Linked DNA regions of Homo sapiens. The protein of the gene in region 1 binds, or shares a complex with, the protein of each later gene. Each region holds a gene or a part of one and is shown in the gene's direction. Other genes may lie near its edges.

Region 1 (11,893 bases):
TGCACCCGCATTCTATGGCAATGATGACCCAGCACCCCTCTCTGTGCATTCCCTGATGACAGACCACATGCTTAGGTGCCCCTTACCAGCCTGTGCTCTGACTTCCTGCTTCTCCTGAATGTACTCCATTGAAAGACCTCCACAACCCATGCAGAGGATGCCACTCCTTTTCCTTATCACAGCACCTTACTTTGAGTGCATCACCCTGGTACTTTCACTCCTACTATTTGAAGCAAATGGCTGTGTTTTGTTTGTTTATTTTACTGAAAGTTTGGACCACTAAAGATGGTTTAACCTGGCAGTGCCAGAAACAAATTTGAGCACTGAACATCCTTCTTAGAAGTTCTCAGCCAACACCCCACAGCGAGTCTCTTACGGCCAGCTCATCCTCACTGGTCTCAGCTTTGCACGATGCTGTTCCACAGGTTCCCCATTATCTGATCTTTCCCCCCCGTTAGGGTATTTCCTACCTCCTTTTGACTTCTTACGCAGAACAGTTTAATTATCTCTGTATTTCTCTGTTTATGACTTCAGAGCCTCACTAAACTCCATCAAAAAATTTTCGTAAACAGACTATTTTGTACCTAAGATGAATTCCAGGACCAGCTTTTAAAATTATTTTTCTTAACCTGGCTACATTTCGATTTCGAAGTTTATGAGACAGAAGTTCCATATCATCTAAACTGATCAGAGAGACAGAGCACCAAAGCCATACATAGTGATTGAAGGTGCAAATATTGTTACCTGTCTGTGATCTGAAAGCTCAACTGGCATCAAATAATTTCAGGCATTATGTCTTATTTCAAAGATGTTTTACGAGAGAATGAAATGATTGCCTAAGCCAGTGCTTCAGGTTGTATGCTTTTGTTTTGTATCTGTATTGTTTTTCTGTTTAGCCAAGTAATTCATACTCATTGCAAAAATTGTAACATTAAATATGAATATAAATAGTAAATTTTTAATTATTAGATTTCAGACTTTTTAAAAGAAAATCATTAGAGGATAGGCCTGATTATGTGTAGATATAACAGAGAACACTTTTTCAACGGTGCTAAAATCCATTTTTCAAAATCATGCAAGATATCCATGGGCAGCAAGTAATTATCACTCTTCAACAAAAAGAAAAATATAAAAAGACAAATATGTAATAAGTAAGTCTGCTTGTTCCATAGTCTACTCTTCCTTCATGCCAACGACAGGAGCAATACTGACTGAATAAAGCCAATGTTCTAATAAACTCTTCAGATTTTATTCTGCCAAATACCATTCATAATGAAGTAAGGTACTCTATTTGTGTTTTTGAGAAAATAAAAGCTAACCCTTTGTTGTTTTTATTTGCAGATCACATCTGCTTGAGTTTTGAGGGAATTATTTTTTTCAGTTACCACTAAGAAAATACACAAAATAAATGACCATCTACTAAAATGGAATAAGACATACAGGAAAATGAAAAGGATAAATATCAAAACATAGGTATCCTAGCTAATGTTGGACATTTCTGGGGCTTTCTTTGTACCAAGAAATAGAAAAAGTTAGGTAATAGCAAACCTCTAAGGAAAATAATAATTCATAGTCAATATTATCATGAATGCAACAAGAGAAAAGGAATATTAAAACAATAGTCTGAGGGAGGTGAACATAACTGCAAAAAGAAAATGGCTTTATTTAGTCACTACAGTTGATTCAAGTAAATTGAAGAAAATTGCAGATATAGTCATTCATTCATTCAACATATATATCCAAGAAATAATATCCATACTCTCTTCCAACTGGGGCATCATTAGGTCTATATTTTGAGTTTTATGAGCTCAAAATATATTTAAACAAAATCACATCAAACAGCCTCATGTCTTGAAATATGCATTAAATACATGCCACACTTTTCAGAAAAGACATTGGAAATAGTCAACTATACTTGTATATCAAAGTAATTTCATGCACTATAGATCTGAAGCAAAAATAACATATAAAAAAAGAATTATCTCTCCAGATCAGAGCATAAAGATTGTATCTTTTGAATTTTGATTCTACATTTAAACTAGTGCTATAAACACTAATTAGCAAATACTGTTTTAAAGACAGTATTTACATATACCATGAAATGTTCTGCTGAATTTTCTCCTTTTGATTGTATGTTCAAAGAAGCACCATTCAAGATGATTATTGTGTGTACTTAAGTGGTTTAAAGGATCAGTATGTGACCAATAGTTTTTTCCCAAATGGCTTGCACTTGCAGTCGTAAAAATATGTAGATTCTCTTTTTCACAATCTATACTGACTTGGTTGGAATGTGTCTGTCTGACAGATTCATGTGTCTGTATCTGTGGTTTTACCACAATACCATAACACAATTGAATTCCATAAAATTTATAAAATCCTACTCTTTCCAAGTTACTCTGTGGGGCTACGTGGCAGGAGTTCATCATACCTCCACAGTGCAATGCTCACAAATGAATGGGGGAAGAGACCAAGCTAATACAAATCACAGGGAGAGAAGCAAACCAAGCTAGCTGCTCCTACCTGGGAAGAGTGGATGCCTGTATCAATCAAGATTCCTTGTTGCAAGAAATAGATGCTAACTTTAACTGATTAAGCAAAGTAAAGCGTGCGTGTGTGTGTGTGTGTATGTGTGTGTGTGTGTGTGTGTGTGTGTGTGTGTGTGTGTATGACTCATTTGTTGGGCAGTCTGGAAAACCAATCTGGAAGCTAAGCTTTCAGAAACTGGCCTGACCAGAAAACTAACTGCTGCCACTACTACCACCACCCCCAGCAGTTCCACTTCTGCCTCAGGAACTCAATCCTGTTCATGAAGCTGTTCCTGAAGGTCAGACACCCCAACAATACCCCAGGAAGTAAAATGAATTGTGGAAAGAGCCTTTTCCCCCACATTGCTCATTTCTGAGTCACGTGAGGCTCACTGGTAATGTCTAGATCACATGACTATGCCCTGGTTAGCAAAAAGGCTCCACCTGTGGAGGTGGGTGGGGCCCATCAGAAGGATGATGCCCCAGACTTGGCAGAGATATGGTTTGGATTTGTGTCCCTGCCCAAATCTCATATCGAATTGTAATCCCCAGTGTTGGAGGACGGGCCTGGTGGGAGGTGATTGAATCATGGGGGCGGAGTTCCCCCTTGCTGGTCTCACGACAGTGAGTGAGATGAGATCTGGTTACTTAAAAGTGTGCAGCACCTCCCCATCCTCTCTCTTCCTCCTGCTCCAGCCATCTAAGAGAAGCCTGCTTCCCCTGTCCCCATGAATGTAAGTTTCCTGAGGCCTCCCTAGCCATGCTTCCTGTTGAGCCTGCGGAACAGTGGGCCAATTAAAACTCTTTTCTTTATAGATTACCCAGTCTCAGGCATTTCTTTATAGCAGTACAAGAATGGGCTAATATGGTGCTCAAAGGGAGATAAGAAACCAAAACCATGACAAAGGCTTACTCAGCTTCAGAATAAGCTCATTCATTCAACTTCATTAAGTGGCTACCGTTGCTGGGCCCAGTTGCTTTCATTTTATTCCCATATATGACACTGTATTGTCATCCTTTATATGCCCATCTCAGCAATTCAGCCCTGTCACCATTACCTCCCATTGATTTAAAAGTTTCTCAAAGGCTGGAACATTTAACTGGCACATTTGCCACAAACTCAACAAATATTTATGAATGAATAAATGAATGATAAAGGTATAAAATATTGCATAAAAGGGTACAAGAAAGGCAGGAAAGTACACCAGAGAAGATGTGGCATTCTAGCTTATCCTCAAAGAAAAAGAAAGAAAGGAAGAGAAGAGCGCTCTAGCCAAAGGGAACCATATAAGCAGAGGCCTGGGAGAAGGGAAGTAGTGGGCATTTTGAAGACGTTAGCACTTGAATTGCTTGGCATCTAGCAACGGTTCTTCATCTCATGGAGAGAAGAGGCCAAGGCTTGTCACCAACCCTACTCAACTGTACTGGAATACAGGAGAGTGGGGTGGCAAGCTTGACACTGGTGACTTCTCAGGTAATTCTGAGGAGTATTCCTGGGTAAGAAACATTATTTATAAAGTGTATAGGGAGGAAGAAGAGATAGTGAGGAAGAGAGGAACTAGAAAGGAAAGTTGTGAAGAAGTTTATTTTGGAGGTACTCCTATCCCCTTTGTGCTCTCACTTCTCTACTTCATTGGCCTCACTACATTGCCCTTATTCCTGTATCCTGCTTGCAAAGGCCCCTGCTGATAGGGCAGTTACAGCAATTCTCCTGAGAGGGGCCTCCTTAGTTGCCCTTTCATTTAGTTACTTTTTATTGGCATACATTTGAGAGGCCACCACAGGCAAGCCAGTGTTCTCGCTACAGATGCCCAGATGAAGTCATCCCATCCTCAAGGATTTCACAATCTATAGCACTTGCATTTTAATATATAAGTATATACATCATACACCTTTAAGAACTAAAAGAATTGCCAGTGGCACCAAAATAGGGAGCTATCTCAAAGCAAATATTCTTGTCCTAAATTCTTAAAACACCTCCACTTAAAAGTCTGTCCATTCTAAAATTGTTCCTGCCGACTTCCAATTTCCTACATGTTGAAATATGTAATATTCGAACAGTAAATTGCAGCTGGATATGCTAAATTTGTCTATAGGGATCCATAGTTTTCAGAAGAGACTTTTTTAAAGAAGAAGAGATGATGGAGAAAAGAGTACCTGAGTAATGGGGGAGAGAATTCCAGGCAACTCTCTTACCAGAAAACGAAACTAATTTCTCCCTAAAGAGGCAGAACTCCCCCATTCCATCGCACTGCAAGCATTTTGTGAAGGGCATTGGTACAGCTGACATACTGCAGCACAGTTCAAAAGGAACAAATGCACATGACTCCCACATATGAAACAAGAGTAGCCCCGACCTTGCTGACCAAAGGCTCCTGGAGGGGAAAAGACATCAGAAGAAAGAGGAGAAAGTAAGGGGAAGATCGATTGGCTCTGCAAAACTGCAGCCTCAGCTCAGCTGTGGTTTCACCCAGGCCAGCACACTGCTGGTCGGTGCTGGACTGAATAGGTCATTTCATTTTTTCAGCTGCCTTTGGTTGTACTGACATAACTGGGCCCCTACCCACCGCTCTACCGCATCTCTATCTACTCCACTCATATACTTTATGCTCTAATAACACTTAACCGCTATCGTGGCTTTCCTGTTCCCCACCCCCCACACGCCGTCTCATTTTCATCTGCTGCTTCTCCCTCTTACACATCCTTCATGCTGGACTCAAGAGCGATTTTGTCCAGGAAGCCCTCCCTGCCTCCTTTTTGTCGGTGCTGTCATAGCTTCCCGGGTATGTCCTCAGTGAGTCATTCAACTTCACCATCCTCTAAGCCCTTGAAGTCCAAACCCTTGCTTACCCATCTTTGAATCCTCAAGACAGGGTGGTGACTGGCGGAGAATAGGTGTTCAGTATTTGTTGAACTGAATGGAATGCATCCTATCTGCATACTTAACATCTTGGGCACAGAATGTAGAGAGAACTAAAGAGGGTTCCTGTCCTCCCCAGACAGACTTGACAGTCAGAACCCCAAAGTATAGAGAAGTTAAAATGAACTACGGCAGTAGCCCAGAAAAGGAAAACATGTGTCTGAGGGCAAGAAAAGAATTCATCAAAACGGTAGTGTGTGAGGGCTGGGTGCCTGTAATCCCAGCACTTTGGGAGGCCGAGGCAGGCGGATCGCTTGATCTCAGGAGTTCGAGACCAGCCTGGCCAACATGGTGAAACCCCTTCTCTACAAAAAATACAAAAATTAGCCCGGTGTGGTGGGGCTTGCCTGTGGTCCCAGCTACTGGACAGGCTGAGGTGGGAGGATTACTGGAGCTCAGGAGGTGGAGGCTGCAGTGAGCCAAGATCACGTCACTGCGCTCCAGCCTGGGCGACAGAGGGAGACCCTGTCGCAAAAAATAAAAAATAAAAAGCAGCATCAGAAGAGTCTTAGGACTGAACCTTGGAAAAGCTCATGTTATGTGACTCCATGAAGAATTTTTACTGTACGGCCCAGTAGAGCATGAGCTGGGTGGGGGCGGGGGTGTGTGTGGGAGTGTCGGGGGAGGTGAGGGAGTATCAGTTCTTCACCTTAACATCCCATTCTGAAGCACAGGACAGCCCCTTGTCAGAGACACACATGCATTTATCATTTCTGTATAACTGACTCAATATACAGCTACAGAGCTAATTTCACGCTGTTTATCTTGTAACATGGATTCTGTCTATGCTTCCCAAGTAATATTTTCATTTCCATTTTAAAATTCAGAGTTTAGAAAAATGCCTTCAAATACCGTTAGGAGAACCATTCAAATCAGGTGCCCAAAACTAGATGGCACATTGATTCATCTATGGCTGGATGGTTAACTAAGTAGTGCAAGAAATATGAGCTGTTTCAGAACGCAGACGTTTGTTAGAGAACAGGAACTTCTGCTCTCCGTCCTGGAGATTCCAACGTTTGGCCCGATTCTTTGTGAAAACAGACCAGGGCTCCTTCTATGAGAAGAGTAGAGGAGAGGAATGAAGGACAGGAAGAGGACGGAGTTGGGAGGAATGGAGGAAAAGGCATTATGTTAGATAGGGAGAAATCTAGGCTCCAGCCTCAGCTGTGCTGCTAACTCGCTGTCTCTTGACCTCTCTGGGCATTAATTTCCTCAATCTACAAAATAAGGCAACTGGACTGAATTATCAATTCTAACCCTTCCACCTGTGATTCTAACCCATTCTGGTGCCTAATCAAGGAGGGGACAGATGGTCAACCAGGAAGACCCATAGGGGCCACAGAGGGCTGATGCGACCCTCCCAGGCTCTCCGTCTCTCTCACCCTCTCCTTCCCCCTCCCTCTCCCCCTCCCCCTCTCCCTCTCCCTCTCCCTCTCCCCTTTGGCATCACACGCCCCTGCGCGCCGCCTCCAGGAGCGAGCCGCTCGCGCCCGAGGCCACGTGACCCGAAGGCGCGAGGGCGCGCCTGAGCCGCCATGTCGGAGGCGCGTGGAGAGCCAGGGTCCGGGCCTGAGGCTGGCGCCCGATTCTTCTGCACTGCGGGTCGCGGCCTGGAGCCGTTCGTAATGCGAGAGGTGCGGGCGCGGCTGGCGGCCACGCAGGTGAGTTGGCCTCGCTGCGCGCCTGGGGAGGTGGGCGGCCCTGTCCCTGCCCTGTTGCCCACCCCAGTCGTGGACGCGGGAAAGCGTCGCTGGCGCCCCTCTCTGTTCCACGCGACGGTCGCCGACCCCCGAGGTTGACTGGCAGGCGCTTCCGCTCCGGCCGAGAGAAGCCACCATTCCTTTCTTTCCTTGTATAGCAAATCCAGTTCCTCACTTCTCAGGGCTCAAGTTTTTAAGAGAGGTGTTGAGGCAAGTTATTTCCTGGATTCTTTAAAGTAGTAAGTAGTGCCTGTAATTAGAATCTGGCCTGTCAGAGTTAGAACCCTTCGCTCTTTAAATGCAAACATAATCTCCAAGTTCAGTTACCTGACTTTTTGTTAGTTTCTTGACAGTGATTGTATTTGACTACATAGGATTGTTGTGAGAATTAAATTATATAGCGTATGCAAAGTACACTTTAAACACGCAGTAAATAGCAGCCAGAAAAATAATATACTCTTGCAGGCCTCATAGTTATCTGTTATTGATTTCTGTGAAATGAACAAGGTTTTAAGCATCGGTTTAGGTTTTAGAATGTTGAAAACTGGTTTCTTGAAAGTAGGGGATGAAGGTATAATAGAAAAGGTATCTTGATGGGGTGTATGGGACACTGTGAGTGATGTACTCTTGGAAAAGGAGAGCTTCCTAAATGAAATTAACCCCTCCACCCTGGCAGCTCCTACAGTGTGGGAAGCCCACAAAAGGAGTTTCTGCAGTGAAAGGTTGGAGTCGTGAAGAATTATGTCAGTTTTGTTAGACTACCTGCCACTTGTGTTTTGGGTCACAGAATTTAATAGAGTATTGAATGTAGCTAATCTTAAAAAGCATCAATATATAATAACTACTGACATTTATTGAACATTTAATATGTGTCAGGCACATGTTCTTAGATCTTTACCCTATATTTATTTGCGTACTTTTCACAACAGCCCTATAAGGTAGGTGTTCCACATTTAACAGATGAGAAAAATGAAGCACAGGTAAGTCCGAGAATTTATTCAAGTCATGCAACTAGAAAATCGCAAAGATGGGATTCAAACCCGAGCTGGGAAATCAAGAATGAGTATATAATCATGTTCAAACCAGGCCCACTATATGACCATGACATAGGGGTGCGCTGGCTTGTTTTTTTAAATGCTAACTTAGAGTGCTTGGTATGAAAGAGAGAGAGAGCTTGGCCCAATTAATATGTAGGATTATTAGAAAAAGGAAAGACTCTCTGCTTGTTCTCCATCTTCTCTAAAGACAAATGAAATGGGGAAAACTTTATTACCAGGAAGAAAATTCAATTAAATACAGGGAAAACTTTTTGACAGTGGGAGTAATTAAATGCCAGTAGATTTGGGAATTTCCATATTCTGCTCTTGTATGTTTGAAAGATAGATAGGTCTGGAAATGGGATCTGAACAAATAATCTCTGAAATTCCACCCAAGTTGCTCTGATACAAAGTGAACTCTCAAAGTTAAGGCAATCCTGAAATAACAGTGATGACAACTAACATTTATTAAACACTTAAAATGTTAGACAAGTTATGTGCATGTTATGATTTAATCCTCAAAAGACTCCTATCTGATAGACTTTTACCTCCATATTTTACCAAAAAAAGAGAAAATTGGGACTTGTCTCTGAGTCTCTCTAGCTTTAAAGCCCATGTGCTTTACCACTAGGCTAAATTACCATGGGAATCTTCCCTGGAACATTGGATGTAGTTTATTTCTGTAACACCACGGTAGAGTACGTATGGTCTTTAGAATCAAAAGACCTGTGTGCAGATCTTATATATTCCTTTAGTGGATTTGTAACTTTGGGCAAATTACTCAAATTTCTGAGCCTCAATTTTCTTGGATGTAAAATAGAGATGATAGCTACTTTAAAGGATTACTGCAGTCCCTGAAATAAAGATAGCACAGGTAGCATGCTGCCTAACAAATAGTTGGTGCTCAATTTTAGTTCCCATACAATGAGTTGTACAGGAATACTTAAAACATTCTTTCAATGATAAGAGAGTGTTAGAAACTTTGGATCGCATCAAGGAAATTAACACTCTAAAATGTAAATTTACAAAACAGATTAATTCAAGAATGATTGTTTAAGAAAGTAATCACTTCATTTTAATGTGTTTTTCCAATTTTCATGAACATAAGAATCACTGAGGAAGCTTGTTGAAAATGAGTATTTCTGGGTGCCAGCCCCAAAAGGTTTTCTTTTAGTAGGGTGGCTGATAAGCCCAGGTGCTACCATTTTAACATGAAAACATGCTCCCCTCTCAGAGAACTCCCAACACACAGTTTGCAGTGGAAAATTTCCTGTGTATTCTTTTTAGCTTTTTATCATGGAGAATTTCAAAAATATACAAAAGTAAACAAAATAGTATGCCGAATCCAGCCTGGTATAGTGGCTCATGCCTGTAATCCCAGCACTTTGGGAGGCCAAGCCGGGCAGATTACCTGAGGTCAGGAGTTCGAGACCAGCCTGGACAACATGGTGAAACCCCGTCTCTACTAAAAATACAAAAATCCAGGTGTGGTGGCGTACACCTGTAGTCCCGGCTGTTCGGGAGGCTGAGGCACGAGAATTGCTTGAACCTTGGAGGCGGAGGTTGCAGTGAGCCAAGATCGCGCCACTGCACTCCAGCCTGGGTGACAGAGTGAGACTCCATCTCAAAAAAAAAAAAAAAAATAGTATACTGAGTCTCTATGGTGTAGTTTAACATGTTCCTCTATCCTCTGTATTTCCTGTAAGTTGGAATTCTGTAAGTTTTATCTAGAACTTGGTCAGATTCAGGTTTGATGTTTTTTCTCCCCTCTCGTTGTATGGCAAATTTCTTCATAAGTCCCTGGATGATGTTAAATATTTAATTTACATATCTACAAACACATATCACTTAGACTACTTTGAAGAAAGTAATATATTGAGAAAAATTAAGCTTTACTTCATAATGATGTTTAATGTATTATTAAGTACTGCTATTTATTGTAAGACTAGTAGTAGGATCAGTTATTTTAAGATAAAATTGAATGTTGTAGAGATATCTCTAATGTCAGTTCACCAGAAGAGTCCTGTCAGTTGATTCATTGATCTTTATAAACTCACATATCAAACACTATTAACACAGGTCCTGAATAGGCCACATAAATTTTTGTTTTTTAATGGTGGCATCACAGTCGAGGGTAATAGGGTAGAATTAAGCAGGAAGTCAAGTTATTCCATAGTTATTTTCATTTAATGGAATAATTGCATAAGGTTGCCTTAAAGATTTTCTGCATTCCCTTTAGATTGAATGCCTCTTTTTTTTTTTTTTTTTTTTTTTTTTGACATAGTGTTACTCTGTCGCCCAGGCTGGAGTGCAGTGGCGCAATCTTGGCTCACTGCAACCTCCGCCTCCTGGGTTCAAGCGATTCTCCTGCCTCAGCCTCCCAAGTAGCTGGGATTACAGGTGCCCAGCTAATTTTTGTATCTATAGTACAGACAGGGTTTCTGCTAAACATGTTGGCCAGGCTGGTCTTGAACTCCTGATTTCAAGTGATCCACCCGCCTTGGCCTCTCAAAGTGCTGGGATTACAGGCATGAGCCACCATGCCCAGCTGAATGCCCTTTTTACAAATTAAGTGAAACATATTTTTGAATTCCTTCTTCTAAAATAAACCAAAACAAACTCAAACAACACCTTAACCCATCACGTAGCACTTTCAAATTAATTCTGTAACTAAATGGCATCTGTAGAATTAGGAGACCTTTGGTACCTCCCTATATCATGATGTGTTTTTGCATAGATTTAAACTTTTTAAAAAAATCGTGACAGGATCAGGCTCTGTCACTCAGGCTAGGGAACAGTGGCGTGATCACAGATCACTGCAACCTTGATTTCCCCGGCTCAAGCAATCCTCCCACCTTACCCTTCTGAGTAGCCTCTTGGACTACAGGCATATGCCACTGTGCCCAGCTCATTTACTTTTTGTACCAACAGGGTCTCACCATGTTGTCCAGGCTGATCTCAAACTCCTGGGCTCAAGCAGTCCTCCCGCTTTGGCCTCCCAAAGCACTGGAATTATAGGCATGAGCTACCACATTCAGCCTAGATTTGAACTTTTAATCTTTGTGTTAAATTTGAATCCATGAATTTTAAAAGAAAGGAAAAATGCTGTTTAGATATGCTAGCAGATAATAGAGCTGTTATTAATCAAGGCTGTTACTTCATCTTCGGGAGTGTTATACATAAAACCAGCTGTTTTTAGATACTTGGTTATGATTTCATTCTAGATAGAAAAAAACAGATTGTATATATAAATAAATTTTCAGGTAAGAAACATGAGAATGAAATATTCCAAATGCCTTATTTCTCTGAGTGTTGTATTAAATATGAACAGTTACAAGCAGTAAAGAAAAAGAGAATTAGTAGCTTCAGCAGTTTTTGAAGTCATAAGCACCAAAATTCATTCTCCCTACTATTTTAAGGTATCATACCTATCTTCACAAAGAGTGAACTGTTTAAGTGCATTCACAGATAGGATTATTTGATTCTCACAGTGAGTACTATTTTACAATCTATTAAACTACAGTAAGTCCTCATTTAATGTCATCCGTAGGTTCCTGGAAACTGTGACTTCAAGCAAAAGGATGTATAATTAAATCATTTTTACCATAGGCTAATTGAAATAAACAAGAGTTCCTATAGCATATTTCTGGTCACAAAAATTTCACAAACTTCTAAATAGGTTATTTAGAACACTTCTGATAGTAAACGCTG
Region 2 (6,597 bases), on another chromosome or scaffold:
CCAACATGGTGAAACCCCGTCTCTACCAAAAATACAAAAACTTAGTCGGGCGTGGTGGCAGACACCTGTAATCCCATCTACTGGGGAGTCTGAGGCAGGAAAATCGCTTGAACCTGGGAGGCAGAGGTTGTGGTGAGCCGAGATCATGCCACTGCACTCCAGCCTAGGGGACAGAGTGAAACTGTCTCAAAAAAAAAAAAAAAAAAAAACTTCCCTTGAAAGGCCCTCCCTAGCTCCCCCTTAATTAAGCAGGACCCCCTACATTCTCCCTTTCAGCCCATCTGCGCCCTCACCATTCTCACCCAGTCTGTGATGATGCCAGAATGCCTGGCGCTCAGCGAAACAGCCATTCATAACCAAGGAGATGGCCGCAAACCACAAGTGTTTATTGCAGAAATCTGGCCAACATTCCAATTGCAGGGCCCCAGCACAGGGCTGGGCAGGTGAGATAGGGAGGGGTGGAGGAAGTAATCTGGCCCAGGGCCTCAGAGCTGTGAGATGATATTGGGTGCCAGGCTGCAGGTGAGGCCTGTGCCATCTGGTTCCACATTCAGGGCCTTCACTATGCCATCCTGTACCACCATGGAGAACCTGCCGGAAAGAGGGGCCCAGCCAGCTGCATCAGCCTGGGCTTGGAGGCTGGGCATGGAGACAGGCAGTGAACAGCCAGGGGCCCAAGAGAACTCCAGAGAGGACTCCCCCCACAGAGGACTCTCCCCCACAGAGGACTCACCACCACACAGGACTCTCTCCACACAGAGGACTCTCCCCACAGAGAACTCTCCCCCACACAGGACTCTCTCCCCAGAGGACTCTCCCCTACAGAAGACTCTCCCCACACAGGACTCTCTCCCACACAGGACTCTCTCCACACAGAGGACTCTCCCCACAGAGGACTCTCCCCCACACAGGACTCTCCCCCACAGAGGACTCTCTCCACAGAGGACTCTCCCCACACAGGACTCTCCCCACAGACGACTCTCCCACACAGAGGACTCTCCCCCACAGACGACTCTTCCCACAGAGGACCCTCTCCACAGAGGACTCTCTCCCACAGAGGACTCTCTCCCACAGAGGACTCTCTCCACAGAGGACTCTCCACTTTTACCTCTTGAGACGTCGATTCCCAAAGATGGACACCAGCGAATCATCTAGTAATAAGTCTGTCTCCTAAGAAGAGACAGAGAAAAGTGTCAGAAATCCTTGAAGAGGCTAAGGGCCCCCACTGCTCCCCGCACTGCCATGTCCCTGTGGCGGTCAGGGGAACACTCACCTTCCCAAAGGCCCCAGTGGGATCAGCCAGGAGCCGAACCTGCAGAGAAAGTAAAGGTCACAAGAAGAATATCCTACCTGGTCCTGACTCCCTGCAGGCCCCTCACCTCACCTTGCCTTCCGCCTTGTGGGCTCGGCCCCACTCGCCAGTCACAAAGGCATCATTAACACTCAGACAGGCCACCACCTGGACTCCCTTGGCCTTCAGAGCCTCAGCCTGCTCCACAAACCCTGGCAGGTGTGTCTGAGGAAGGGGAACAAAGGGTCGGCAAAGGGATAACTGCATCTGACCCCCAGCCCACCCTTTATCTCCAGGCCCTCCTCAGTGCTCTGCCTCAACACCTTTGATCAGACAATGAGAGCTGTCTAAACCATTCTATTTCCTTTTTGCCTTGGCCACTAGGAAGCTCAGAATGAAACCTAATGCCTTATGGTCCAGACGTGAACTTTCCATGGGCAGATCTATGTCTTATTTATCTGAGTCCCAAGCACCTTCCACAGTGCCTGTCATTTAGCAGGACCAACAGGGGTGTTGGATTTAATTGTAGTATGTTTTTCTCCAACATTCCTGGTACTGTTCCCTTTTTGCAGTCTCTACTTGTTTTCTTTTTTTTTTTTTTCATTTTGAGACGGAGTCTCGCTCTTTCACCCAGGCTGGACTGCAGAGGCACGATCTCCACTCACTGCAACCTACGCCTCCTGGGTTCAAGCAATTCTCTGCCTCAGCCTCCCCAGTACCTGGGATTACAGGCGCCCGCCACCATGTCCGGCTGATTTTTTTGCATTTTTAGTAGAGACAGGGTTTCACCATCTTGGCCAGACTGGTTTTGAACTCCTGACCTCGTGATCCACCCGCCTTGGCCTCCCAAAGTGCTGGGATTACAGGCGTGAGCCACCGCGCCCAGCTCTACCCAGCTCTACTTGTTTTGTGATGGCACTGAAATGCTTTTTAGGAGTCCTATCAGGACTATGTGGAGGACTTAAGAGCAACACAAAAGATCCCAGGTCCTGATCTTCAGAAGGGGAAGGGCCTCACCTTGGAACATCCAGGGGTGAAGGCCCCAGGAACTCCAAACAGCACACCCTTCTTGCCCTTGAACAGCTCTGCCAGGTTCACCTTGTTCCCTGGCTCCCCTTCAAACACCTCCACTGCTGGGATGGCATCTCCCACCTAGAAGGAAGGACTCCAGGGTAAGGGGGGTGAGGGAGCCGGGGCAAACCAGAGGCAGGAAGGTGAACAGAGAGCCTGGCAGCTGTGCCTGCAGGAACCGGGGCTGAAACCCAGCAGGATACTCCAGCCCTGTCAGTTTCCAAGGGCCCTCCCTGCCCGCTCCCACTGGGTTACCCCATATCCTCCAAGTTTCAAGGTGGCCCTGCTCCTCTTAAGGGGCCATTGGTGACAACAGAGAAAGGGAGGGAAGGTTTCCCCATGTGTCGCAAAGGGTTGCATAACATGCTGTCTAGGTTACAGGAAAGGAGTGGAATAAAATGGACAGGGGCTAGAGGGCTGTATTTGGGGGTGAGGAGGAGTCCCTGACAACATGGAGGGAGAGGATCTTGGCCAGGTCTGAGGGTCCCACCCTCAGGAGGAGGAAGAGGAAGGGCAGCGGCAGGTGGAACGTTGGGGGAGGGTGTCCAGGCCCCTACACCCAGGAGGTGTAGAACAAAAGAAGGAATCTTTTGAAGGGGGAAGGATCCATCCCCAGAGTACTTGAGGGCTTCATGGGACCAGAGTGGGTAGGGAGAGAGAGTCAGAGGTGAGGGCCTCTGAGGAGCCCAAAGGTTGAGAGCAGGATGAAGTAGAAAGGGAATGGGGTCTCACAAGGTTTGGGAGGAGAAGGGGGAAGGTCCAAGGCCCTGGGGACGGTTCCAGGAAGTGAGTGAAAGACAGAAAGGTGGGAATTCGCCATGGGGGGAGGGGAGGTCATGGAGTGGGATGGGGTAAGCCCCCGCGGGGGCGCTAAGGGACAGCTGTTTCAGAAGATAGGGGAAATCAGGCCGGGAGTGGTGTCTCACACCTGTAATCCTAGCACTTCGGGAAGCCGAGGCGGGGGGGGGCGGGGGGGGTTCACCTGAGGTCAGGAGTTCGAGACCAATCTGAACAACGGGGTGAAATCCCGTCTCTACTAAAAATACAATAGCTGGGCGTGGTGGCTCGCATCTGTAGTCCCAGCTACTCAGGAGGCTGAGGCAGTAGAATCGCTTGAACCCGGGAGGCGGAGGCTGCAGTGAGCAGAGATTGCGTCACTGCACTCCAGCCTGGGCGACACAGAAAGACTCCGTCTCAAAAAAAAACAAAAAACAAAAAACACAATGCCTCGGGACTGTCCCGGGAGGTGAGGCCCCCACGATTGGCGAGAAAGGTGGGCAGCCACGAGGGCCTTCTGAAGGGATGAGCCGGGCGGGCGGAGGGGAGGGGTCTGGCAGGCAGGAAATAAAGCGATACTCTCAGACTAGCGGGACGGGGATTGCCATGGGGGTAGTGGGGGATGTCAGGCCCGGCCGGGCCAGCGGTCACCTTGATTGGGGCCATGGCTGCAGCGGCTCTGCTGAAACTGCGGACCCCGCCAGACGCCCACTCTCCTTCACTGTACCGTCTTGCTGCCGCTGCCGCAGACTGACCGCCGGCCCCACCGACGAGTATATAGCCCGCTGAGCGTCTCAGGGCGCACACGCCAGCTAGTCCCATACCCGCCCCACGGCCACTTCCACTCCGCCTCCTGGCTGGTGCCACCGCAGCAGGCGGGGCACCGCTAGCGGCACAGCGGCGACACCCTGCGGAAGGCGGGCCTGGGCCGCCTCCACTGCGCAGGCGCGAGCGGCCACCCGCAGAACAGAGCTTCCGGGACCCACGCCTCGTTTGCACTGGGTGCTGGACAGCCGACGCAACTACAAATGGGGCGGAGCTTTCGGCACTGGAGCAGCTAATTTGCATATAGGAATGAGGTGCGGCTCGGCTTCCATGGGCCTAATTTACAGATAGGGCGGTATTTCTGCCCCTTAACCGAAAGTGGGATACAGAGGACGACGGTGTTAGGCGCCTGTGTAGGAGTAAAATGTGTTTATTTTGCATTCAACGAGAGCTCCTGCATTGCAGCTATTTTGCATATGATTTGCATCTTACGAAGAATTTGTGGCAAAAAAAAGCTGGGCGTGCGCCGTAGGAACCTCCTGCTGAGACGCTTCCGGTAGCGGCGCGTGACCCGACAGGTCTTTCACCTACCTACCTCAGCTCCCACAAACACGAGAAGTTCCAGCAAGTTCGCCACTTCCGGTTCTCCTGGCTATCCAATAGCATCGAGAGGAGCATCCCCGGAAGTGAGGCAGCGGAGGACGACCTTTTTCCGGTTCCGGCCTGGCGAGAGTTTGTGCGGCGACATGAAACTGCTTACCCACAATCTGCTGAGCTCGCATGTGCGGGGGGTGGGGTCCCGTGGCTTCCCCCTGCGCCTCCAGGTACCCGCCGGCGGCAGTCTTCCCTTTTCGGGCGGGATGGTGGGCCGGGGTCCAGTGCTTGCCTAAACTCCTCCGCCCTGCAGGCCACCGAGGTCCGTATCTGCCCTGTGGAATTCAACCCCAACTTCGTGGCGCGTATGATACCTAAAGTGGAGTGGTCGGCGTTCCTGGAGGCGGCCGATAACGTGAGGATCCTTACCCCGCCCCAGCATATCCCGGGGAATGCGGGGCGGGCACACCTCAGCCGGGCTGAGGCGGGAGTTCGGGATGCCCGGAGATAATTTTGGCCTCTTGCCCACAGTTGCGTCTGATCCAGGTGCCGAAAGGGCCGGTTGAGGGATATGAGGAGAATGAGGAGTTTCTGAGGACCATGCACCACCTGCTGCTGGAGGTGAGAAGCGGCCCATCACTTGCTTCCCGGGCCACCTGCCTCCCGCACTGAGGCTGCCAGTGCTCAGCTCTGTCCCTCCCTGCCCGCAGGTGGAAGTGATAGAGGGCACCCTGCAGTGCCCGGAATCTGGACGTATGTTCCCCATCAGCCGCGGGATCCCCAACATGCTGCTGAGTGAAGAGGAAACTGAGAGTTGATTGTGCCAGGCGCCAGTTTTTCTTGTTATGACTGTGTATTTTTGTTGATCTATACCCTGTTTCCGAATTCTGCCGTGTGTATCCCCAACCCTTGACCCAATGACACCAAACACAGTGTTTTTGAGCTCGGTATTATATATTTTTTTCTCATTAAAGGTTTAAAACCAAAAGCGGTTTCTCTTTGCAGCAAATATACATTAAAATAGAGTCTCTGTACAGCCAAGGGCTCTGGGCCCTGGCTTGCCCCATGTCCCTGCGCCTCCCTGGCCAAACCCAAAAATAAATATAGTGTTATTGCTCTGCAGGGCATAGAGGCAGTGCTCTCCTACCCCCTGAGGAGGCTCGTTGGGAGCTGATGGGGAAGCCCTGGCCACCCCAGGGGTCCAGGGGCTGGAGTCTGCTTGGAGTTATTGCTTCAAGGGGGGACACTAATGCCCAATGCAAATGATGAGAGGAGGAGCGAAGGGGGCATGGGCCTTTGCTCTCCAAGTCCCACTCTGCTTTGAAGAGGGGGTAGGATTAAGCAGCAGCAAAAGCATCACCCACTGGGAGACTCTGGCCTCCATCCCCTTCCCTCCCTGAGATAGGTTTCTGCCTCCCACGCATCCCGTGCAGCCCCCTATGGCTTCCGCAAGGCCCCCTACACTCTGGGGGCACGTTATGGCTTGCAAGGGGCAGCACTGTGCCCAGAGCCTGGACACACGTTCCCAGCTTCTGACACCCCCTAGGAGGGGGAGGAGAGGGCGTGGGGCCTGTTCCCAGGGGCTGATGGCATTGCCCTGGCCCTGCCAGCAGGCTGTGGCACTGCCCAGACCCCAGCTCCGCCCCAGCCCTTGGGGCTGACCCCATGCTAGGCAGGTCCTGCCAGAACCCCCACCAGTCCCACCCCTTGCCTCAGTCCATCATGGCCTCGAGCATCTCCAAGAACAGCTTGTGCATGGGCACCTTGCCCTCCAGCTTCACCCCATAGAAATGGGCCAGCACTTTGCCCGCTGTCTGGCGGAGGAGCGGTAGCGTGAGCAGCAGCCTGCCCGCCCGCCGCCGCTCAGCACCCCCTCCGGGGCCAGCCCGGCCGGCTTCATACTCCAGCAGGGCCTCGTGCAGAGCTTCTCGCAGCTGCTCCACAGCCTCGGCATCTTCGATGTGCACAGAGTCTGCAAGAAGAGAGGAATGTGGTGTTGGCCTGGGCTATCTCTGGCAAGGGCACTCCCCGTATCTTGAGCACTGCTGGATGGGGCCTAAGGAAGAGCCAAACGAGGATTTGTTGATTGGCTGACTGAG

The links.
Region 2: THUMPD2 (region 1) and TRMT112 share a complex: the UniProt entries of both Homo sapiens proteins name them as parts of the heterodimeric THUMPD2-TRM112 methyltransferase complex.

Annotation. Positions count from the first base shown.
Region 1 is NC_000002.12:39,774,327-39,786,219, reverse strand, and holds the start of THUMPD2 (U6 snRNA (guanine-N(2))-methyltransferase THUMPD2), read left to right. Parts: upstream 1-6,961; 5' UTR 6,962-6,980; coding exon 6,981-7,106; intron 7,107-11,893. UniProt on the Homo sapiens protein: Catalytic subunit of the THUMPD2-TRM112 methyltransferase complex, that specifically mediates the S-adenosyl-L-methionine-dependent N(2)-methylation of guanosine nucleotides, most probably at position 72 (m2G72), in the U6snRNA of the major spliceosome.
Region 2 is NC_000011.10:64,315,580-64,322,176, reverse strand, and holds TRMT112 (multifunctional methyltransferase subunit TRM112-like protein), read left to right. Parts: upstream 1-4,617; 5' UTR 4,618-4,650; coding exon 4,651-4,728; intron 4,729-4,811; coding exon 4,812-4,913; intron 4,914-5,029; coding exon 5,030-5,119; coding exon of another isoform or gene 5,120-5,170; exon of another isoform or gene 5,171-5,208; coding exon 5,209-5,316; 3' UTR 5,317-5,717; downstream 5,718-6,597. Other genes in the region: PRDX5 (peroxiredoxin-5, mitochondrial isoform L precursor), read right to left, coding at 486-591, 1,109-1,170, 1,274-1,312, 1,385-1,516, 2,309-2,443, 3,791-3,961; ESRRA (steroid hormone receptor ERR1), read right to left, coding at 6,211-6,470. UniProt on the Homo sapiens protein: Acts as an activator of both rRNA/tRNA and protein methyltransferases. Together with methyltransferase BUD23, methylates the N(7) position of a guanine in 18S rRNA.